Homo sapiens: one gene and its partners. The protein of the gene in region 1 purifies or fractionates together with the protein of each later gene. This does not show direct contact. Each region holds a gene or a part of one and is shown on either strand. Other genes may lie near its edges. The genes, in order: BSPRY, BTBD9, RAB11B, ANKRD17, USP4, MSLN and KLHL23.

Region 1 (2,591 bases):
TAAGCAATTTCTAGCAAATATCTAAACTGCTGGTAAATCAGGCATCATTTGATACCAGAATCTAGAGTAGAGAAGCTACAGCTTCTACCAAAATTGTAAGGATAATACGAGGAGGGAGGATTAAAACTGAAAAAAAAAAAAAATCAGTCTATTAACCTAACTGTTCCACGAATTGTGAAAGACTACCATTGGGAGAATGGAAGCTTCCATCTAACTTGGAGGAGGCCTGCTCTGGAGAACCTCTGTGCTAAATGGGAATTCCTGGAGGCAGAAGACCATGTCAGTTTACCTCTGTGGCCCCAGCATGTGGCACAGGGTGGGGCCCACAGTTGGCCTGAGTCAGTGTGTGTAAAGTGAATAAGTGAGGCAAATCAGGCAGTTTGATTCTTGGTCCAGATGTTCTTCAGTTGGCCATCAATTTTATCTTCTTAAAGAGAAACCCCAGGTTTCCAATAAATAATACTGGGCTGCCCTAGTAGGTCAGGATATAAGGAAGACATGACTTATAGGAATGAGATTTATCTTTGACCCAACCACAGAACATGTTAGTCCGGAAATGGGAAGGACTTGGCCCAGCTGCCCCAGGCCTGTCTGGAACCTTGACCCTACTGACCAGCCTGCATCCAGCATGACTTGTTTAAGCTATCATCTCAGAAGCACGGGTCCCCATTGTGAACCAGGAGTGAACCCCAGACAGACAGACAGAAGCCCAGTTGTCCTAATGGTCCTGGGCTCTACTGCTCCTAACCTGAGAGAGACCCAAGAACCGCCGTTGCCCAGAGTTGGGTCAGTAGTGGGCTCCGAGTGCACTTCTCATTAAAGTTTAACATTTCCGACTCCTGGGGATCCAAAATGCCCTCTGCTTCTTCGGTCCTTATATGGGGAAAAACAGAGACAGAGATTCAGGATGGTTCTGGAAATATATCTGGATCAATATGGGGTGAAGAGAAGAACAGAAGTAAAATCTCCTATCAGGCGATACCAAGATTGGCAGCTAGGGCCAGGTGCAGTGGCTCACCCCTGTGACCCTAGCACTTTGGAAGGCCTGATGTGGGAGAGGATCACTTGAGCCCAGGAGTTTGAGACCAGCATGGGCAACATAATAAGACTCCATCTCTACAAAAAATTTAAAAATTAGCTGGGTGTGGTGGCATGCACCTGTAGTCCCAGCTACCTGGGAGGCTGAGGTGGGAAGATTGCTTAAGCCCAGGAGTTCGAGGCTGCAGTGAGCCAAGATCATGCCACTGCACTCCAGCCTGGGTGACAGAGTGAGACCCTGTCTCAAAAAAAAAAAAAAGAGTGGCATCCAGGCCCCACACAGGTGCTTGGGCCAAAAGGGAAGGTGGCCATTTCCCCTGTGCCCCCCAGAAGCCTTAATTTTAGCAAAGCTGGTGGACAGTTTATAGGAAGATGTGTTCTTGGTGCCAGTATTAGAAATTGAAGGTGGTGTGCTCTGCAGAGGAAGCAACTTGCCAGAGTCCCTCAGTAAGTTAATGGCAGAGCTGGGGCTAAGACCTCCTGGGCCTCTGGAACCCCTGCACGATAGTCTTTCTACTCCAACATCTTGCCCTTGCCTGGAAAATATCTCACCTCCCTCTCAGACCTGTTGGGGCAGTCATGTTTCCCTGGGTTTTGTCAGAAGGTACAGCCACTCCTCTACTTTAAAAATGCAAACACCTGAGGGGTCCACAGAGGAAAGGGCCATCAGTTATCACCCCAGCCACAAATGAATCATGGCACTGTGTGCTCTCAATAACTCTCCCCTCAGCTCACAATGGGGGCTGGGTTTTGCTGGAGAGGTATTTTGGGACAATATGATGCCTAGGAGTTGAAAACTGCCATGTATCAGCAGTGAGGGCCTGGGTTTGCTGTTTTCTCTACAGAATCATACCTCAACTTTGCTATAACCTGGGAGGTAGTGGTTATCTGATTTAACAGGACAGAACAGATTCAGAGCTAAAAAGGGGAGCTAGATTCAAGTCATGCCTCCATGCAAAAATAGAACAAAACTGGGATGAAGCCCAGGCAGCATTCAACATAATTTTTTCCTTGACCTGAAGTGAAATCTCAAAGGAATATAGGGCAAAGTAGGGGTTTACCATGGAGCTTTGCAGCCTTTTGACCTAGGTGCTGAGAAAGACCTTTCCTACTGCCTCCAATCCTGAAGATGGCGTTGAGATCAGGCAGTGGTTCCGAGTACACACACTCTCTCCCCATATCTCATGGCTCTGTGCATAAATGGAGTGGGCACAGGGGTGGGGCATGTGCCCTGATGGCTCTTTGCAAGACTGTCACTGTTCTGTCTTGGGAGGTATAAGGTGAACAGAACCTTAGAAATGCTGGGAGCAAGCTCTAGTAACAAAGGCTCTTTGTGGTCAGGACAACAGAGGGTCTATTGCCATCTTCTCAGAACGCAGGAGCTCCCGCCAACAGGTGGGGAAGAAAGAGGAGCTGATGTCAGCGGTGCTAAGCTGTCATCCCAGGGCAAATGTGAGGCTGAACATAGTGAAGTCTACAGCGAACCACCCGGGCTAGCTGCCCTATGGTACCGAAGACAAAACTCATGGCCCCAAAGGGGTGGAAATGAAAAA
Region 2 (3,500 bases), on another chromosome or scaffold:
GAGGGCTGAACTCATCTCAAGAACCCATTCCTGAGATAATGAACCCATTCCTGCTATAATGGCATTCATCCATTCATGAGGGCCTAATCACTTCTTATTGCATGGGGGAAGTGATGAGGCAGGAAGCTGTTTTTGGAGCCAAATTATGAGGGGGTCTTCCACTTCATCCTAAAAAGTCTAGACTCCTCCCATCCATTGGCAGTGGAGAGCCATAGAAGGTAGAATAATCAGAAAGTTGACAGTTCGTGTGCAGATTGCATTAGAGTAGAGAGGCAGGGAGACTAGAGTGTAGGTGAGAAATGTTGGACAATGGGAATGGATAGATTTTGGAGACATTTTTAGATGTTAAAATCTCTACATTTATGACCAGCTAGAGGTAAGGGAGAGTGAGAAGTCAAAGATAATATGTCTAGTTTGAGCAACTGTTTGCTTATGATGACATTAAGTTAGAAATCACAGGAAGAGGAACAGGTTTGAAGTGGAGAGAAGAAATAATGGCAGTGTTAATTCTGAGGTTTCTGTGGGGAGTTTAAAAAGAGAGATCCACTAAGTAACTGGAAATGCTACTTCAGAGTTTATGAGATGGTTAGGGACAATTGTAATATAGATGTCCGCTGAGGCTGTGGGAGTAGCAACCTTCTAGGAGGCATGTTAGTATAGTAGTTAACTTAGTGGACTTTGGAGTTAGGAAGATGGCAGGTCAAATCTCTGTTATGCTGTTTATTGGTTGGCTGACCTTTGGCAAGTTATTTAACTTCTCTAAGCCTAGGCTTCTTATCTGAATTAAAGAATTGTGGAGATTATACATGTGCACAGTGATTAACACAAAGGTACTATGTGCACAGTGATTAACACAATGCCTGTCTTATAGATGCTTAATATAATAAATGGCAGCTGTTGCTGTTATTGTTAGTAGTAGTTATAGATGTAGAGATAGTAGGAGAGGCCCCAATGCCAGAAAAATGGAGAGTGAGAACTGGAAAAGATGGTGAATGGAACTTTTGGACGTTTAAATCAGTATTTAAACTTGGATCAGTTCTTGTCTTTGTTTTGTGCTGCTATTTCATATTTTATGTTTCATAATGGCAGCACAAAACAAACTAAGACAAGAACTGATCTAAGTTTAATTTATAAAGAACAGTCTGGTTAATTTATAAAGAACAGAAATTTATTTCCTGATAGTTCTGGAGGCTAGGAAGTCCCAGATCAATGTGCCAGTATCTGGTGAGGGCCTTCTTGCTGTGTCATAACATGGCAGAAGGCATCACATGGGTGAGAGAGAGAGGGAAGGGGGCTGAACTGATCATGTCAACCTATTCCCACTCTACTGGCATTAATTCATTCATGAGAAAAGAGTCTTCATGGCCTAATCACTAAAGATCCCACCACTCACTGCTGTTGCATTGGGGAATCATGTCTCCTCTAACACATGGAGGACACATGCAAACCATAGTAGTTCTAAAATTTGAAAATGCATTGGGTAGACCTGGAGGTGGCCAGGTGTGGTGGCTCATGCCTGTAACTCCAGCACTTTGGGAGGCTGAGGTGGGTGGATCACTTGAGGTCAGGAGTTTGAGACTAGCCTGGCCAACATGGTGAAACCCTATCTCTACTAAAAATATAAAAATTAGCTGGGTGGGGTGGTGCACACCTGTAATCCCAGCTACTCAGGAGGTTAAGGCAAGAGAATCGCTTGAACCCAGGAGGTGGACATTGCAGTGAGCCGAGATTAGGCCACTGCACTCCGGCCTAGGTGACAGAGCGAGACTCCATCTCAAAAAAGAAAAAAAAAAAGAAATAGCTGGAGGCTTTGGTAAAGCACAGATTTCTGGGTCCCACCCCCATAGTTTCTGATTAAGTAGGTGTGGACTGGGGCTTGAAAAATTGCATTTTTGAACAAGTTCCCAGGTGATGCTGATGGTGCTGTTAGAGGATAGATGAAAGAAAAGGAACCAGCACTAACAAAGTGGTTGAAGTGTATGGAGAACCAGGAGATAGTTTAGAGAAGAATAAGAATTTTAACAGCCTCCAGACTCTCTAGGTCTACCAGTCTGATTTCCAATTTCGTAGAGCTTATCTCATTCTTATTTTTGTTTTCTCCAGAATCTATTATAATGCCTGATACATAGCAATAACCTTTGAAGCTGCTTAATACTGTCCTGGTGCATGATGGCATGTACCTCACACACAGATTTCATTTATCCTCTTTTATCTCTGATGAGTCATGGGGAGGATATGATTTCTAATTTTACACACACACAAAATAACTACAGAAAATTTCTTTCATATATCTGGTGTGTAGCTATGTGCATTTGACTTTGTGTTAGATGCCCTCTCCCCCCCCTTTTTTTTTAAAAAAAAGGAACAATCCAGTTTGCAAAATAATTTTTAATAATATGTGCCAGGATTCCAGTCTGTGTCCTGTATTAGGCACATTGAGTCTTAAAAGGGAAGCAAATAATATATTCCCTGTTCCTGGGAAGTTTACAGATAAGATGGGTGAAATGAGCAAAACCCACAGGAAAGAAACAGGAAGAGGTATAATCACAGAAACATGGATGTAGAGAATCTGAATCTAAGGACATATTCTTTGCTTGCCAATATTCTTTGGGTTTTACATGTTTCATATACTGAAGACTTTTGGCATATAGCACACATGTTAGTCCTAGTGAGAGGAAGTTATAAGGGAGTTCCACTATATAAGGAAATAAAACAGTAGCTGTGCAAAATTATAAACACATTTGTAAAGGGAGTGAAATTGGAGTTAAATTGGAGCTTCATGACTGACAGCTTAGCTACTCACTATTCTGCCTAGGTGCTTGTTCTCTCTCATTTATCTCCCAGCTAACATTCATTAAGCATTTATAGTGTGCCAGAAATCGTGTGAAGTGCTGGGCATAGAGAAAACAATAATTGCCTTGTGCACCTAATTCTGGTTTTACTTGGGGAAAGGAATGTGCACACATGTATGCATATTGTCAGGGTGAAGGAGCCTGACTTTTATAATCTTAAGATTATATTGAAGGAAGAGACATTGAGGACTTGAAGTTAAATTCATTCAGCCTTATGTATTCAAGGGGCCATGACGAGTATAGGGATGGGGCCATGACGCGTATAGAGATGTATATTTTTTTTTTAGCAATCAAATTTGTAATTTGATAGAGGAGAAAGAACATATTTGGAGTAATAAAAAGAATACGATAAGTACTGTATAAATATTGATTACAGACTAGGTACTCTGGCTTCTTAAGCAGCTAAGTGTTCAGTTTTAACAGCAACTCATAAGCTATTGTAATGTTTCAGAAATTATAACATGTCATAAGTCCACATTAACCTCCTGGGCTGCCTTTGCATCTGAATATGAGACACAAAAATATTCTGGCAGTCTGTGTCCCTATTTTCTTGATTTGGGAAGTATATGCATAATGCATATAAGCAAAAGAGTAATTAAAAACAAGGTGCTATTTATCTAATGGCTACATTATGCAAGGCCCTTTCTA
Region 3 (2,287 bases), on another chromosome or scaffold:
ACAAAACAAGCGAAGGTTCAGAGGCCGTGTTCCACCCTGCCTGGCTGGTGCCCTACCCACACCCATCTGGTCCCCGGCCACCTGTGAGGATGTTCTTGAATGCTTCCTCTACGTTAGTGGAATCCAAGGCTGAGGTCTCGATGAAGGACAAGTTGTTCTTTTCTGGAACAAAGAATACTGCCTAGGTGAGTGGGGAGGCAGGGTGACAGGCTCCCACATGCTCTCAGGGACCCCGCCCACCCACCTGGCCCATCCCAAGGCCACTCCTCAGGGAAGGGAAGCCAGGGCTGTGGCCAGGGCCCCAACACTGTGAGGGGCCTCCTGCCTTCCAGACACCTCTCTGATGCCTGCGTCTCCGTCTGCTCACCTGCGAAGGCGCGGGCCTCGTCAGTGGGCACAGCCCGCAGGTGGCGCAGGTCACTCTTGTTGCCCACCAGCATGATGACGATGTTGCTGTCTGCGTGGTCCCGCAGCTCCTTCAGCCAGCGCTCCACGTTCTCATAGGTCAGGTGCTTGGCGATGTCGTACACCAGCAGGGCGCCCACTGCACCACGGTAGTACCTGCAGGGTCAGGGGCCCATGAGCCTCTCTGGAGGACAACCATGGGCAGCGGCAGCCTCACGGGATAACAGCACACATCACGCCCAGGGTGGGTCGTCCAGGGCCGAGCCAAGGGGCAGTCATTGTGGCCTCAAGGGAAGGGTGTGTGTCTGGAGGCCCCAGCGCTGCTCCCTGGATCCAGCTCTGAAATGTGGGGGTCTGAGGAGGGAGTTTGGGAGCTGGAAATAGAAGATACCGTGAGGTCATCAAAAAAAGGGAAGAAGGGGCTGGGCATGGTGGCTCATGCCTGTAATCCCAGCACTTTGGGAGGCTGAGGCGGGTGGATCACTTGAGGCTGGGAGTTTCAGACCAGCCTGGGCAACATGGCGATACCCCATCTCTACTAGAAAAACACAAAAATTGGCCGGGGGTCGTGGCTCATGCCTGTAATCCCAGCACTTTGGGAAGCCGAGGCAGGTGGATCACGAGGTCAGGAATTCAAGATCAGCCTGGCCAAGATGGTGAAACCCCATCTCTACTAAAAATACAAAAATTAGCCAGGCGTGGTGGCAGGCGCCTGTAATCCCAGCTACTCGGGAGGCTAAGGCAGGAGAATTGCTTGAACCCTGGGGGGCGGGGGGCGGAGGTTGCAGTGAGCCGAGATTGTGACACTGCACTTCAGTCTGGATGACAGAGTGAGACTCTATCTCAAAAAAATAAATAAATAGGCCAGGCAGGGTCGCTCACGCCTGTAATCCCAGCACTTTGGGAGGCCGAGGCGGGCAGATCATGAGGTCAGGAGATCGAGACCATCCTGGCTAATGCGGTGAAACCCCATCTCTACTAAAAATACAAAAAATTAGCCAGGCGTGGTGGTGGGCGCCTGTAGTCCCAGCTGCTCAGGAGGCTGAGGCAGGAGAATGGCGTGAACCTGGGAGGCAGAGCTTGCAGTGAGCTGAGACTGCGCCACTGCACTCCAGCCTGGGCGACAGAGTGAGACTCTGTCTCAAAAACTAAAACTAAAAAATAAATAAATTAATTAATTAAATTAGCCAGGCATGGTGGCACAGGCCTGTAGCCCCAGCTACTCAGGAGGCTGAGGCAGGAGAATCGCTTGAGCCTGGGAGGTCAAGGGGGCAGTGAGCTGCAATTGTGGCACTGCACTCCAGCCTGGGCGACAGAGCAAGACCCTGTCTGTCTCCAAAAAAGAGGAGGCGACAGCCAGGCACGGTGGCTCACGCCACCTGTAATCTCAGCACTTTGGGAAGCCGAGAGGGTGGATCACCTGAGGGCGGGAGTTTGAGACCAGCCTGACCAATGTGGAGAAACCCCATCTCTACTAAAAATACAAAATTAGCCTGGTATGGCGGCATGTGCCTATAATCCCAGCTACTTGGGAGGCTGAGGCAGGAGAATCGCTTGAACCCAGGAGGCGGAGGTTGCAGTGAGCCGAGATCGTGCCATCGCACTCCAGCCTGGGCGACAAGAGTGAAACTCCATCTCAAAAAAAAAAAAACAAGAGGAGGTGACAGAGAGACAGATGTACCTGAGGGATGAAGGAGATGGGAGGGAGCCCAGAGGATCTCAAGACGGTGGTGGGAATGGCTGGGGGGCTTGGGAGGGGTCCAGAAAAAGGCAGCTGAGTGGGTCCTGATGGCTGGGAAGCCTTTGCAGGGAATGGAGGCCAGGCCCAGGTGGGAGGACAGGAGGCGTGTGGGACCAGGTGTGGGCACCAGTGAGGAGGGAA
Region 4 (3,500 bases), on another chromosome or scaffold:
AAACATTTTCTCAGAAAATCCTCCCTTAAATAACTAGTACAAAATCAGGACTTTACCCCAACTTTAGGAAAGTCCATGTAGCCTGCAGGAACATGCTGATGGAATGTACCAGAAGGAGTTACAATTCCTGTACTATCTCGCTCCATTGCTTGATGTTGTGAAAATACTCCTGGGTCAGACATCGGTCTGTGGATCATAGGATTTCCCATCCCAGGGTTACACCAGTCTACTTTGTCTGAGGGCAAACAAAGAGGCAAAACAAAAATAGATAATATTTAAAATCAAAATCAAATATTTTGTTTTTCTAATATTTTCCACATTGAACCGTAAATTATTTCAATATAATGACCTACTTTTATATATTTACAGCAATATTTCCATGGTTTGTAAGTAGTGACATAATAGCTTAATGAAATAATCTAAAAACTTGGTGTTATAAAACAAAAGAAAAAAACCTAAGTACAACCTAAAGGGACTGAAAGGAAATATTATTATGTCCTTAATATGATGAAAGGAAGAAAAGAACATGCTTGCATTAGATATTTTCTGAAAGCAGTAATAAATACATGTAATGAGAAAGGTCACATGGGGACAGAGCTCATAAAGAAGTGATTAAATATTCACATAACAAAAAAAATAGGAATACAGATCTTTTAGAAATGACTACGAGGCTGGGCGTGGTGGCTCATGCCTGTAATGCCAGCACTTTGGGAGGCTGAGGTGGGTGAGTCACTTGAAGTCAGGAGTTTGATACCAGCCTGATCAACATGGTGAAACCCTGTCTCTACTAAAAATACAGGCGGGGCACAGTGGCTCACGCCTGTAATCCCAGCACTTTGGGAGACCGAGGCGGGCGGATCACAAGGTCAGGAGATCGTGACCATCCTGGCTAACACGGTGAAACCCCGTCTCTACTAAAAATACAAAAATTAGCCGGGCGTGGTGGCGGGCGCCTGTAGTCTCAGCTACTTGGGAGGATGAGGCAGGAGAATGGCATGAACCCGGGAGGCGGAGCTTGCAGTGAGCAGAGATTGTGCCGCTGCAGTCCGGCCTGGGTTACAGAGCGAGACTCCGTCTCAAAAAAAAAAAATTAGCTGGGCATGGTGGCGCATGCCTGTAATCCCAGCTACTTGGGAGGCTGTGGCAGGAGAATCGCTTGAACCGGGGAGGTGGAGGTTGCAGTGAACCAAGATCACCCCATTGCACTCCAGCCTGAGCAACAAGTGAAACTCCATCTCAAAAAAAGAAAAAAAAAAAGGAAATGACTATTAAAGTTAAATACTGTTTACATTATAGTTAAATGCATTAAGTTAATTTCTAGAGAGCAGGACAGAATATCCTACCTTGATTGCCACCAATCCCTTCAAAGGACCAGATGCCACTATGTCCTACTGATGTAGACAAATTGCTCCCAATAACAGATGGAGCTGACGTTCCAGTTTGCCTGATACGTGCAGAACGTTCAGTCCCAATAGGGACTGGAACTTTCCTGTCCTGAGACACATTGCTGGGCTTTTCTGACCCTAACGGTACTGATGATGGGGCAGGAGATGGTGCACGAACTCCCGAGGATACTGACTGTGCAGAAGAATCTAGAGAAGAGATATTTTGAAATAAAATACAGGTCATCTATAGAACATGTAATTTTATAAAACCAAATCTTAAAACCAGGAGATGTTTTAAATATATATTCTCAGAAAAACAAAGTGTAAAAATAATACTTAAAAATGATGCATATTAAAATTTGGCTAAAGTTCCATGACTTCAAGGTAGAATATGATGTCAATGCTGCAAAATGTTCAACTACAAAGGTAATAAACCATTAAATTAAATAATATTCAAATGAATTAACCCTTGACATTAAGTAAAATGTAGCAAGCAATAAGACATTTAAATTAAAAAACAAACCAACAACAACAGAATGGAGATGGGTAAGAATCACTGCCTGTAGTGGCAATCTCCAAACTGTATTCCCTGGGAATACTTGCTCTTTGTGTTATGATGAAAAAGAGATTCAGCTATCTAATAAATTTGGAAAACCTAGCCTAGGAAAAAGAAATACGTTTCTTTGTTATTTATTCATTTTTTATTTATTTTATTTATGTATTTTTGGAGACAGAGTCTTGCTCCATTGTCCAGGCTAGAGTGCAGAGGCTCGATCATAACTCACTGCAGCCTCAAACTCTTGGGCTCAAGCGATCCTCCCACCCCAACCTCCTGAACAGCTGGGACTACTGGGATGAGCCATCATGTCCAGTTTAAAAAAAAAAAGTTTCTTCAAATTAGAACTGAAGTTTATAGAACATTATATATACTGATAAAATACCAATAAGAGGATCATTGCCTAAGTCTGTTTTATTTTATCTTGTGAGTACTTCACAGAACATGCTTTTGGTAATGAGAATCTTTTTTACTTATGCAAACAAGGTGGATTTCTTGATTTGAGACTATTCATTAGTGATTCAATCTCTATACATTATTGAGAAAAAACAAAAATAACCAAAATTATATTTTATGTGAAAAGCTTAAATATTGGCCGGGCGCGGTGGCACACACCTGTAATCACAGCACTTTGGGAGGCCAAGGCGGGCGGATCATGGGATCAGGAGTTCGAGGGGCCAATATGGTGATACCCTGTCTCTACTAAAAATACAAAAATTAGCCGGGCGTGGTGGCACGCGCCTGTAGTCCCAGCTACTCAGGAGGCTGAGGCAGACGAATCACTTGAACCCGGGAGGCGGAGGATGCAGTGAGCCGAGATCGTGTCACTGCACTCCAGCCTGGGTGACAGAGCAAGATGACTCCATCCCCCCTCCCCCTCCCAAAAAAGCTTAAATATTAAAGCACATTTAAACTAAAATGGTATAAATAATAAAGGAGTCTGAAGCTTAAAAATCAAAACTGTTACCTGCAGATTCAACAGAACTGCAGTTGAATTCCAAATAAGCCTATTATATAAGATAAAAGAGAAAGACCTATAGCATTCCTGTTGACAATAAAAGCACTCCAGAAAAAAAGCTATAACCTAAAATTCAAAAATGAACGAAAAGAAAATGATATGAAGGAACAGCATAATTCAGAATTAGTAAAACGGAAACAATATGACAAAACTCAGGAAAGTGTTAGAAGTAAAAGAATATTTTAGCTAAAGACCAAATAAAACCAAATTCTGCAATTATACATGCAGTAGAAAACAGACAAAAACTACAAGGAATACACAGACATGTAAATGTAAACACAAAGATAAATAACAAAAGCTTGTTTTTTAAAAACCTACATATTGAAAGGCCACACCTAAACCTCTAGGAAAAATCAACCCAGAACAACTAACATCAAGACATAGTCAGGGCAGGCAGGCAGGAAGGAAAGAAGGATAAACAAATGAATCCTGCTTTCCCCTAGGTTCATCCCTGGGAGCCTACCTTAACCTCTGTGTTCACTCTGGTTTCCCTTTTATTTCCTGTATCCTTCTAGAACCAAAGTAGAGCAAAATAACAACA
Region 5 (3,500 bases), on another chromosome or scaffold:
CTCATGCCTGTAATCCCAGCACTTTGGGGGGCCAAGGCAGGTGGATCACCTGAGATCAGGAGTTCGAGACGAGCCCGACCAACATGGTGAAATCCCGTCTCTGCTAAAAATACAAAAATTAGGCCGCGCACGGTGGCTCACACCTGTAATCCCAGCACTTTCGGAGGCCAAGGCAGGCGGATCACGAGATCAGAAGATTGAGACCATCCTGGCTAACACGGTGAAACCCTGTCTCTACTAAAAAATACAAAAATTAGCTGGGCGTGGTGGTGGGCGCCTGTAGTCCCAGCTACTCGGGAGGCTGAGGCAGGAGAATGGCGTGAACCCGGGAGGTGGAGCTTGCAGTGAGCCAAGATCGCACTACTGCAGTCCAGCCTGGGCAACAGAGCGAGACTCCGTCTCAAAAAAGAAAAAAAGTATGTGTATATATATATATATACACACACACACACACACACACACACACACACACACACACATATATACATTTATATATACACACACACACAAATTAGCCGGGCATGGTGGCACACACCTGTAATCCTAGCTACTTGGGAGGCTGAGGTAGGAGAATCGATTGATCCTGGGAGGCAGAGTTTGCAGTGAGCCGAGATCGTGCCATTGCACTTCAGCCTGGGCAACAAGAGCGTAACTCCGTCTCAAAAAAAAAAAAAAAAGGCCGGGCACAGTGGCTCATGCCTGTAATCCCAGCACTTTGGGAGGCCAAGGTGGGTGGATCATGAGGTCAGGAGTTTGAGACCATCCTGGCCAACATGGTAAAACCCCGTCTCTACTAAAAATACAAAAATTAGCTGGGTATGGTGGCAGGCGCCTGTAGTCCCAGCTACTCAGGAGGCTGAGGCAGGAGAATTGCTTGAACCCAGGAGGCAGAGGTTGTAGTGAGCCGAGATCGCACCACTGCACTCTGGCCTGGCGACAGAGTGAGACACGGTCTCAAAAAAAAACAAAAACAAAACAAAAAAAACAACAACAACAACAAAAGAAAATGGGAGAACCTTTCTGGGTAACTCCAGCACCAGACAAAATGGTGATGAGGGTCTAGAGATACACACAGAGGGCTTCAGCAAGTATGCAGAAATGGCTGTTCTTAACAGAATTACAGTTGGTGCCATAATAATTTAAACTCAACCAAAACAGGCCCCAGAAAGCTTTCTTCCTCCAATATTTTATTTAAAAATTTTCAAACACACAGAAAAGATAAAGAATTTTTTTTTTTTTGAGACGGAGTCTCGCTGTGTCGTCCGGGCTGGAGTGCAGTGGCGCGATCTTGACTCACTGCAACCTCTGCCTCTTGGGTTCAAGTGATTCTCCTGCCTCAGCCTCCCAAGTAGCAGGGATTACAGGCATGCGCCACCATGCCTAGCTAATTTTGTTTTGTACTTTTAGTAGAGATGGGGTTTCACCATGTTGGTCAGGCTGGTCTCAAACTCCTGACCTCGTAATTTGCCCACCTCAGCCTCCCAAAGTGCTGGGATTACAGGTGTGAGCCACTGCGCCCAGCCAAGATAAAGAATTTTTACAACAAATACTTATTATCCATCACCTGGCGTCTCCTGCTGACATGCTATACTTCATGTATCTATTCTTTCCCCCAGAAAGCATTTTAAAATCTACATTTTGTGGGCAACTCCCTTTTTTTTTTCTTTTTTTGGAAACAGGGGCTTGCTCTGTTGCTGAGGCTGGAGTGCAGTGGCACAATCTTGGCTCACTGCAACCTCCGCCTAGTGGGTTCAAGCAATTCTCCTGCCTCAGCCTCCCTAGTAGCTGGGATTACAGGCGTGCACCACCACATCCAGCTAATTTTTGTAGTTTTACTGGAGACAGGATTTCACCATGTTGGCCAGGCTACTCTCCGGCTCCTGATCTCAAGTGATCCACCCACCTTGGCCTCCCACAGTGCTGGGATTACAGGTGTGAGCCACTGTGCCGGCCTCTTTTTTTTTTTTTTTTTTTTTTTTTTGAGATAGAGTCTCGCTCTGTCACCAGGCTGGAGTGCAGTGGTGCAATCTTGGCTCACTGCAACTTTTGCCTCCTAGGTTCAGGCGATTTTCCTGCCTCAGCCTCCTGAGTAGCTGGGACCACAGGTGTGCGCCACCACATCCAGCTAACTTTTGCATTTTTAGTAGAGATGGGGTTTCACCATGTTGGCCAGGATGGTCTCGATCTCCAGACCTTGTGATCTGCCCACCTTGGCCTCCCAAAGTGCTGGGATTACAAGCATGAGCCACCGTGCCCAGCCTATTTTTTTAAATATATTTTTTATTTTTTGTAGAGAGGAAGTCTCTCTATGTTGTCCAGGCTGGTTTTGAACTCCTAGGCTCAAGTGATCCTCCCACCTTGGCCTCCCAAATTGATGATATGTGAGCCACTGTGCCCAGCCAGGGAACATCTATCTGTTAACTTACTTTCCTGTTCTTAGTTACAGTCTGTACTGTGGGGCTTGAGAGGATATGAGTAGACAGCCAGTCCCAATCCCTACCCCAGGGACAGGATCATGGCAGGTGTGCAGCCCACCTGCAGCCCCCAATAATAACCCAACTCTACCTGACAGGCTATTCTTGGTTGCCTTGTCCCCTGTTGTGCTGCCTCTGCTAAGGTGAGGCTACCTGTGACAGATGATGGACAGGAAGGCCAGTTAGGTGGCCTAAGTGACTCGAGAGGGAAACTAGCAGTGGCAGGGGTGACTGGCAGCAGCCTGTGTCTGGGCAAATGCTTCCACTGGAGAGTCTCTTCCCCAAAGATGGGAGGATAGGGACAGAAGGGGTAACTACAGCTAAACTCTGACCTCCTAGACCCCGGCAACACACATCCTTACTCAGAAAAGTTTTTGGTGGCAAACCACTCAGCCAATCAGTGCCAAGATTTTCTGCCTGTTTTTAAATGTTCCTAACACTGTAGTCACCATGACCCACCTGATTGGGAATTCTACGACTGTGTCGAGCTTATCCCTCCAGTATCTGTTGTAGGAGAAACGTTTGAGGTGGACCACCAGGATCTTGGGCAAGGACCATAGGTCAAACTTTTTTGTGGCCTGTTGATGCTTCTTACAGTTGGGACAGTACCTAAAAAGAGAAACCTCCACTTAGCAGGGCAAGCCGGCAGCCAGTGCCACCTGGGCACTCATGCATGGAGGCACAGCTGCAGTCCCCTGATAGCTGCCATCCTCTCGGTCAGCACTCAACACTACTGCTTCTGGCCAGGGACCTGTCTTCCAAAATGGGGTGACGGCTTTCCTTGGAAACCTCAACTCACAGAGGATTATGTTGTAGGGTTAGCTATATAAAGAAGTGACACATCCAAATACAAAGGGGTTTATGTGCACAGATGGCCCTAGCAGATCTGAGTCCTGGGGTGCATGGGGCCTCTGCCCAGACAGTGAGGAGCTGCGTACCAGGGGTCATGCTCCCCAAGGGTCTCCATGGTGGTGAAGAGCTCGATGCAGTCTCTCAGGGCCACTGTGGTCTTCTTCTTCTTCTGAG
Region 6 (4,102 bases), on another chromosome or scaffold:
AGGCCTGGCTGTGTCTCAGACCCATGGGCTTGGCTGCTTCTCATCCATCTACTTCCCAGACCCAGCTGCAATTTCAGCTCTGCCGCTCCCTGGACCTGGCTGCTCCCAGGCCAGTCACATGCAGGTCCAGGTGCCCCTTTGCAAGCAAGGACCGTGGAAACTGGCAAGCACCGTGGATACGTGACAGAGAGAACACAGCATGGCACCCCCACCTGGGACCTGAAGACCCTCCCCTGTTTCCCCAGAGGGGACCTTACCTGCCCTGTCTCTCCAGCCAGGGTCCTCGAGGGCTGCACCCATCCTAAAGGGGCAGAGGGGACAGCTTGGGGGAGGGGGCGGGCCTCTGGGCTGTGCCCTGACCCAGGGGAGGAAGGAGGCAGAGCCTGGCCGCCCCCACAGCCAGCCCTGTGCACACCCCAAAGAGAAGCCAGTGGCTCAGGCCCATGTACCCCGTGACATCACAGTCCCCCAGGCACAGGGGTCGGGACTCCACCAGGGAGCCCGGCCTTCCACATCTTTCCCTGAGACCCGGCTGCTTGGCCGGTCAGACCACCCATCCCACAGACATCCCCACTGTGTCCTGAGCCCCATCACTCCCTGGCTGGATCTCCAGCTCCAGTCACCTCTGGGGGCAGAGACTGCTGCTGAGACGTGGCCACCACAGGCACTCCAGGGAGAAGGCAGGGGCAGGCAAAGCCTTGCTGGGGGCCTGGCCCCCAAGGCCCCTGGGCCGTCCCCACCTCACCAGCAGCCCCATCAAGTACGCACCGAGGCTGAAGAGCAGGAACAGGAGGCTGCCGAGGGCGGGGGTCCCACAGGACCCCAACAGGGGTCGAGCCGTTGGCAAGGCCATGGTCTGTGTCTGTGGAGGGCAGTGACTCAGGATGGGACCCCCTGCTCCCACCCCACGCCTCTGTCCTGGGCCAGCCTGGGGCCACATGGGCCCAGGAGGGGCTCCCAGAGCAAACTTCTGTGGTACCTGCAGCTTGTGTCCGCACCCTGGCCCTGCCCTCCAGCCACTGAGCCCTCTGTCCCCTGGACTGGCTCCTCCTGTCCAGGGGAGGGGCTGGGTCTGAGATCCCGGTCCCCAGCCCAGACAGCCCAGGAGTCAGTTGGCGCCCACCCCTCTCCCAGAAGGGCAGGGCAGTGTGAGCAGAGCTTAGATCAAGCAACCGGGGCCGCCGCCCACTTGGGCTGGCCTGAGTCTCCCCACTCTCGCACAGGAGGACGAGCAGCCCCGTCGCCTGGATGTGGCTCCCTTCCCTCTCCCCTGCCCTCAGCTGCAGGTGCCTGGGCTTTGTGAACACCCCAGGCTCTGCCAGGCAGACAACACCCTTGAGGCAGGAGGGGCACTGCGGGCACAGAGGCCACCGCCCCTTCCCACCCAGCAGCGTCTTTTTGGGCCACTTGGCCTCTCTGAGCCCATTTTCAGGTGCAGTCCAGGTGGGGCGGGGCTGGGCCAGTGAGCAGCCTGGGGAGCCCCTTGTACTCTCTAGGGTGGGGCCTGTGGGCCACTGTGGGGTGGGGAAGTGGGTGGGGAGACCCTCCCTGAACAAGAATTGTCCTCCTGGGGTAGGGGTGGGGCTCGCAGAAGAGGGAACTGGCTTCTACACTCACCCCTTTCAGGGAGGCCACCATGGCGGAGTAGAATAGAGCTGCCTCCTGAAAACCTTGGCCCAGGCCCGGTGGGTCCACCCACAGCTCAGAAATGGGGGTCACACGCTCATGCTCAGCAGCCCCATCCACAGGCAGAGCCTGCCTGGTCGGCCCGGCCACTGGGGAATGTCGCGGGGAGGCACACAGCCTCCGGGTGACAGACTCTACTCCCCCAGGCCCCAGAGGAAGTGGGGAGGCCCCTGAGGCTCTGAACACCTTGAGAAGGTGGAAGAAAACAGACCCCCCCCACAGCCAGAAAATGGGCAGTGAGTGGGACCCCCAGCCCTTGGGGTGCGTGAAGCCAGGAGGGAAACGTGGCCATCGGATCACAGGGGACCTGGGCACTCCCCACCCCAGCTCCATGTGACCCAAGGACCTCAGCACCTGGGATGGGGGCTCCCCGAGAGCCCGGCCCTTCCTGCTCTGAGGGGCCTCTGCAGGCCATGGGGGGCCCTGGAATCTGCATCCTTTACACCTGCAGGAGAGCTGGGCTGGGGCCGTGGAGGCACCTGCACTGCCTTAGGACTGCCGCTTCCAAACAAATGGGTCTGCGTGTGCCCTGCGGGGTGAAATCTGCGTCCAGCTGAAGCCTGACCATCGCTCTGGTGCTGGAAGCCCGGCCTGGGGCGGCCCCAGTTCTCCAGATGGAAGGTGCAGATTCCATCCACACCACAACAGGAAGAGCTCAAAGGTTGTTACTTACAGATCCCAGGGAGGGAGGCACCGTGGGTCCACCGGTAGCTCTCTGTCCGCGCGTCACAGCAGACGGGAGTGGCCGGCCAGGCAGAAAGAGGAGTGCGTGGCGCTGGCAGCGCCCATGAGGAACAGGACAGCCCCTTTCAGATCGCGGGCCAATGCCCACACGTGGGCCTCTAAAGGGCGATGTGAAAGGGGAAGCCCAGCCCCCAGGCCTCTGAGGCCTTCTGCGCAGTTGGGTAGGGAGCTTTACCCCTAACGCCCGGGCAGCCCCCAGCCCTCCAGGTCCCGAGTGGCCCCTCCCAGGTCTCAGTGGGCCCTGCCCAGGGTAACTCTGATGTGCAGGGTGATTGGCCACACCTGAGCCTCCTCTGCCTCGGTTTCCTCAATTGGGAAGTGGGGGTGGAGAGCCTGGCAGCCTCCCGGGCCGTCAAAGGGAACAAATGACGGCTTTGCCCGGGGCAGCAGGGAGTGGTGGCGCCTCACGCCCCAGGAATGTGTGGGTGGAGACCCCGCACAGGAGCCTTGGACAGGCAGCGGGCCAGGCCTGGGGGAGGAGGGATGCCCAGGAAGGCAAAGCTGCCCTCGGTGGGCGAGGGTGGGAGCCCGGGCCCAGGTTTCACGGCTGCCCTGGGTGGGTGTGGGGCATGTGTAGGAGCCCGGGCCCAGGTTTCATGGCTTCCCTGGGTGGGTGTGGGGCGTGGGTGGGAGCCTGGGCCCAGGTTTCACGGGATCCCACTCTGATTCTCAGGTGCTGAAACCCAGGGAGCACTGGCCCCCCCAGTCGCAGGTCAGCAGGCTCTGGATGGTGGCCACGCAGCCCAGACAGGACTCCCGGGAGCACAAGCCTGACCCCCAGTGCAGTGTGGGCCTCGCAAGGCTGTGAGCCGTCCGTCTCAGGGCTGTGGGAGCACACAGGTCAGGGAGGCAGGACGGGGCCCAGCTCCAGGCACACGCACACCCCTTTCTCGCAGGGTCGACTGGAACAGAGCTGCCCCCGGGCGCTCTCTGGCCTGGCGAAGTGGGAGCTGTCTTCCCTACGCATCTGGGCTGGCTGCCTGCTGCTGATGGAAGAGCTGCTCCTCCTGACCTGGGGCCACAGAAGCCCCCTCCCTGCCCCTGAAACCCCTCCCAGCATGTCGTGAGCTCTTATCCCCAGTACGGAATCTGCCTCCGCTATGAACACCTGCAAAGGTTTGTGTGCTGAACGGAGGTGTGCGCGGCGGTCATCTCTGGTCTCTCCACAGAGTGGGTTTTCTATCGTGACTCGCGGTGGAATCGGACCTTCACGCACACAGAATTCAGCAAGGCTGCCAGGTGTAAGCGTCAACTTACAAATGTCAAGAAGGGATTAAGGGCCTTTTAAAAACTCCCTTCCGCAGAGAACAACTGAAAAATTCCAGACACTCTTGTAGCAAACCAGTTACCCAAGGGCTCTGGGGAGGGGACAGAAGGCAGCCGGCTTGGGCGGGAACTCACAGGTAAAGGGAGAGGCCAGCTCCGAGTGGCGTTCCCTTTGTGTCCACACAGCTTTGCTCTGAAGGAGCCGCAGGTTGGCTGCGGGGCTGTGAAGTGGCCCAGGCTGCCACGGACACCCACAACTTTCCCGGCCAAAGGCCAAAGGAAACCAAGGAAGGAGCCCAGAATACTCAGGGCCCAGAGCTCGAGGAGAGGCCTGAGCCGGAGGAGCCAAGGAGGCGCCCACGTGCCCAGCTGAGCCCTGAACTGAAGGAGCCGAGGAGGGTCCAGG
Region 7 (3,500 bases), on another chromosome or scaffold:
GAGACCAGCTTGGACTACAAAGTGAGACCACATCTCTACAAAAAATAAAAAAGTAGCCACGTGTGATAGCATGTGCCTGTAGTCCCAGCTACTCGGGAGGCTGAGGTGGGAGGATTGCTTGATCTCAGGAGGTCAAGGCTGCAGTGAGCTATGTTTACATCACCGCAGTCCAGCGTACGTGTCAGAGCAAGACCCTGTCTCAAAAAAAGTAAAAAGTCTACAGTAGTGTACAGTAATGTCCTAGGCCTTCACAATCCCTCCCCACTTACTCACCGACTCAACCAGAACAACTTCCAGTCCTGCAAGCTCCATTCATGGTAAGTGCCCCAAATAGGTCTACCATTTTTATCTTTTATGCTGTATTTTTACTGTACTGTTTCTATGTTTAGATACACAAAGACTTACCATTGTGTTATACTGCTTAGAATATTCAGTATAGTAACATGCTGTACAGGTCTGAAGCCTAGGAGTAACAGGCTATACCACACAGCCTAGGTGTGTATTAGGCTGTAGAATTAGTATGGTATAGCCTGTTGTTTAAGTATAACGTTCACATGACAAAATTGCCTAATCACACATTTCTCAGAACATATCCCCATTGTTAAGTGGCACATGGCTGTAATTAGAACACTAGATATAAAATGGAAGAAACACCATGAAAAAAGGGACAGATGAACTGCTGGGCATGGTCAGGGCAAGAAAACACTGCATTTGACGAGGGAAATCACAGCAGGTGGTGGTGGAATTTGACCTGGGTGATGGTAGGAAGTTGGCAAGTATAGATGAGAGGAGGCCATTCTAGACAGAGGGAAAAGCCAGTGCAAAGGCTTACTGGACAATGTTAAGTAGCCCAGTTTGACCAGGGCAGGTGGCACATTGAGGGTTGTTGCATGGGACTTTAAGGCTGGCATGGTAAGTTGAAGCCATGTAGCAAAGGATACTTACTGATGCCCAACAAAGAATCTGGATTTAATTCAGCCAGATTTTAAAGGTTTTTAAACAGAGGAATAGAGCAACTAACAAAGGAAGAACAGGTACCAGAAAGATCTAGTTACTGGCCAGGGTGGGCGGTCTCGAGGGCCTGATTTTGAAGGGGCTTTGGGTATGGAGGGAAGAGCATAGAGGAAAGAGACAGGTAAAACACACAGGTCTTGATGACTGACTGACGCAGAGGCAAACCAAACCGATTTTGAGGTCCTGAGCTGGAAAAACTGGAATCACTGATGCCAAAACAAGGAGGGGTGGGGGAAGTCGAGGAGGGGAAGGAGAGGGAGGGGAAGGAGGAGGAGGAAGAAGAAGGCAGAAGGAGGGAGAGGAGATGGGGGAGGGGAAGGGGAGGAGGGGGAGGGGGAGGGGAAGGGGGAGGAGAGGGAGGAGGGGGAGGAGAGGGAAGGAGGAGGAAGAAAGAGGAAGATAGGCGAAACATGAAAGGGAGATAGGGAGGAGAGGGAGGGGAAGGGGGAAGAGAGGGGAGGGTGAGGAAGGGGAGGGGGAGGAGGGGGAGGAAATAGGTTTGGAGGGAAGATGAAGAAAGGAAGAAAGATGATGAGGATCATTTTAGTTGAAAACGTTGGTTTTGTCTTTCCACTAACTTTTACCTAGCACCATTTTGCATGATACAGTTCAATCTTCTTGTTCCTTTCTATTCCAAAATAAAAGTGGATTTATAAGTAGAGCAGTTATGATGGAAAAAAATAAAGATTCAGGAGTTCCTAAACAGCCAAGTATTTATTTATTCTCTGTACATTAGTGAACTTAATTTGGGTCCAGGACCAAAAAAAGGTAATAAATTTTAAATTTGACTGTACCCAAATTAAGTTTATTACCAGAGAAAGCTGCTATTTCACTTCAAGGCTACAAAATAAAACGAATTGAAAAAAATGTTATCCTTTCTACCAAAAAATGGGAATCTAAAAGTTCAGTATGGCTGGGTGTGGTGGTTCACACCTATAATCCCCGCACTTTGGGAGGCCAAGGTAGGAGAATCATTTGAGGCCAGGGGTTCAAGACCAGCCTGGGCAACATAGTGAGACCCCCCGCCATTTCTAGTTTTAAAAATTAAAAATAAAATTTTAAAAATTGTTTAAAAAAAGTTCTGTATGAGTCCACCCACCAAAACAAGCAGTAGTCAAAACTGCACATAACTGGCAGTGTTACCTCTCCCTGGGATGACTAGATATAAACAAGAATCAAAGCTTTGAGTTCAAAGTATAAAACTGGAATTTCAGACCCAGTTAGCAGGTGAGGGAGGACTTTGAGGTATGAGGGTCTCCTACTCCACTCAAGGTTAACGCAAGCATGCATATGGCTTTTGTTTCACAGTAGATACACCATCGCAGCATATCTTTTTTCAACAAGCACTGTTCTAAATATAAATTTTTAAAATTTCAGTAAAGTAATAAGCTTTCATTCTCAAAGAAATATACTCTGAACCCACCCTTGTAATCCCAGCACTTTGGGAGGCCAAGGTGGGGGGATCACTTGAGGTCAGGAGTTCAAGACCAGCCTGGCCAACATGGTGAAACCCCGTCTCTACTAAAAATACAAAAATTACCTAGGTGTGGTGGCACATGCCTGTAATCCCAGCTACTCAGGAGGCTGAGGCAGGAGAACTGCTTGAACCCGGGAGGCAGAGGTTGCAGTGAGCCAAGATCACGCCACTGCATTCCAGCCTGGGAGACAGAGTGAGACTCCATCTCAAAAAAAAAAAAAGAAAAAGAAAAAGAAATATACTCTGAACCACAAAACCATTGAAACTGTTATATCATCCTTAAAAAACAGAATCAGAAATGTATGCTAGTTTACAATAGCTCCTTAAATATATGGACTTTTCTTATTTCTTTTGCAGAAGAGGGGTCAGGACATTCAGAGCCCTCCTGGAATCGGCAAGTAGTGGTGAGACTCAGGCAAAGACAAAAACCAGGGGAGCAACAGCACCGGGCTTTCTGCTACCTTCTCCCACCCTGGTGTGACAGTGGTCACAACTTCACATGAAATCAATTTCTGCTCTATAAGAGCTGACATGTCCTTCAATACCGACATTCAGGACAATCATGCGTAACATTTATAGCATGCTTACTCTGTGTCAGACACTGTTCTAGGCACTTCACAAGCATAGATTAATTTAATCCTCTCAATGATCCGAGACTAGGTAATATTGTCATCCCCATTATACAGATGACAAAACGGGGGCACAGGGTGATTAAACAATTTGCCAGAGCTCATCAGCAAGTAAGAGGAAAGCAGGGATCTGGATGCAGGCAGTTTAGCTTCAGAGGCAGCGTGCCTGATCCCAAGACTGTTCTGCCTCTCAGCTTCCTGCCTGTCATCCAAGGATCATACCAGGTCAGATTTCCAGACCAGGTCAAATTCCCACACTCTCACTAGCATTAAAAAAGAAACAGAAAAGCCTGGGAAGAAACATTTGGGACAAAATGATACAAATTTGGTAACGACCTACCAGTTGTTTTTGTACAACTCCTCAGCACCAATGAATAAAT

The links.
Region 2: the proteins of BSPRY (region 1) and BTBD9 purify together in Homo sapiens (affinity purification with mass spectrometry; 2 studies listed by BioGRID and IntAct, with this or other methods). This does not show direct contact.
Region 3: the proteins of BSPRY (region 1) and RAB11B purify together in Homo sapiens (affinity purification with mass spectrometry; 2 studies listed by BioGRID and IntAct, with this or other methods). This does not show direct contact.
Region 4: the proteins of BSPRY (region 1) and ANKRD17 purify together in Homo sapiens (affinity purification with mass spectrometry; one large-scale study listed by BioGRID and IntAct). This does not show direct contact.
Region 5: the proteins of BSPRY (region 1) and USP4 purify together in Homo sapiens (affinity purification with mass spectrometry; 2 studies listed by BioGRID and IntAct, with this or other methods). This does not show direct contact.
Region 6: the proteins of BSPRY (region 1) and MSLN purify together in Homo sapiens (affinity purification with mass spectrometry; one large-scale study listed by BioGRID and IntAct). This does not show direct contact.
Region 7: the proteins of BSPRY (region 1) and KLHL23 purify together in Homo sapiens (affinity purification with mass spectrometry; one large-scale study listed by BioGRID and IntAct). This does not show direct contact.

Annotation. Positions count from the first base shown.
Region 1 is NC_000009.12:113,366,541-113,369,131, reverse strand, and holds part of BSPRY (B box and SPRY domain-containing protein), read right to left. Parts: intron 874-2,591; coding exon 749-873; intron 1-748. UniProt on the Homo sapiens protein: May regulate epithelial calcium transport by inhibiting TRPV5 activity.
Region 2 is NC_000006.12:38,633,430-38,636,929, reverse strand, and holds part of BTBD9 (BTB/POZ domain-containing protein 9), read left to right. Parts: intron 1-3,500.
Region 3 is NC_000019.10:8,400,360-8,402,646, reverse strand, and holds part of RAB11B (ras-related protein Rab-11B), read right to left. Parts: intron 562-2,287; coding exon 368-561; intron 163-367; coding exon 82-162; intron 1-81. UniProt on the Homo sapiens protein: The small GTPases Rab are key regulators of intracellular membrane trafficking, from the formation of transport vesicles to their fusion with membranes.
Region 4 is NC_000004.12:73,077,299-73,080,798, forward strand, and holds part of ANKRD17 (ankyrin repeat domain-containing protein 17), read right to left. Parts: intron 1,593-3,500; coding exon 1,344-1,592; intron 236-1,343; coding exon 57-235; intron 1-56.
Region 5 is NC_000003.12:49,281,054-49,284,553, forward strand, and holds part of USP4 (ubiquitin carboxyl-terminal hydrolase 4), read right to left. Parts: coding exon 3,413-3,500; intron 3,084-3,412; coding exon 2,934-3,083; intron 1-2,933.
Region 6 is NC_000016.10:759,432-763,533, reverse strand, and holds the start of MSLN (mesothelin isoform 1 preproprotein), read right to left. Parts: upstream 2,801-4,102; 5' UTR 2,713-2,800; intron 2,462-2,712; 5' UTR 2,360-2,461; intron 863-2,359; 5' UTR 854-862; coding exon 769-853; intron 302-768; coding exon 258-301; intron 1-257. UniProt on the Homo sapiens protein: Membrane-anchored forms may play a role in cellular adhesion. Megakaryocyte-potentiating factor (MPF) potentiates megakaryocyte colony formation in vitro.
Region 7 is NC_000002.12:169,736,832-169,740,331, reverse strand, and holds part of KLHL23 (kelch-like protein 23), read right to left. Parts: intron 1-3,500.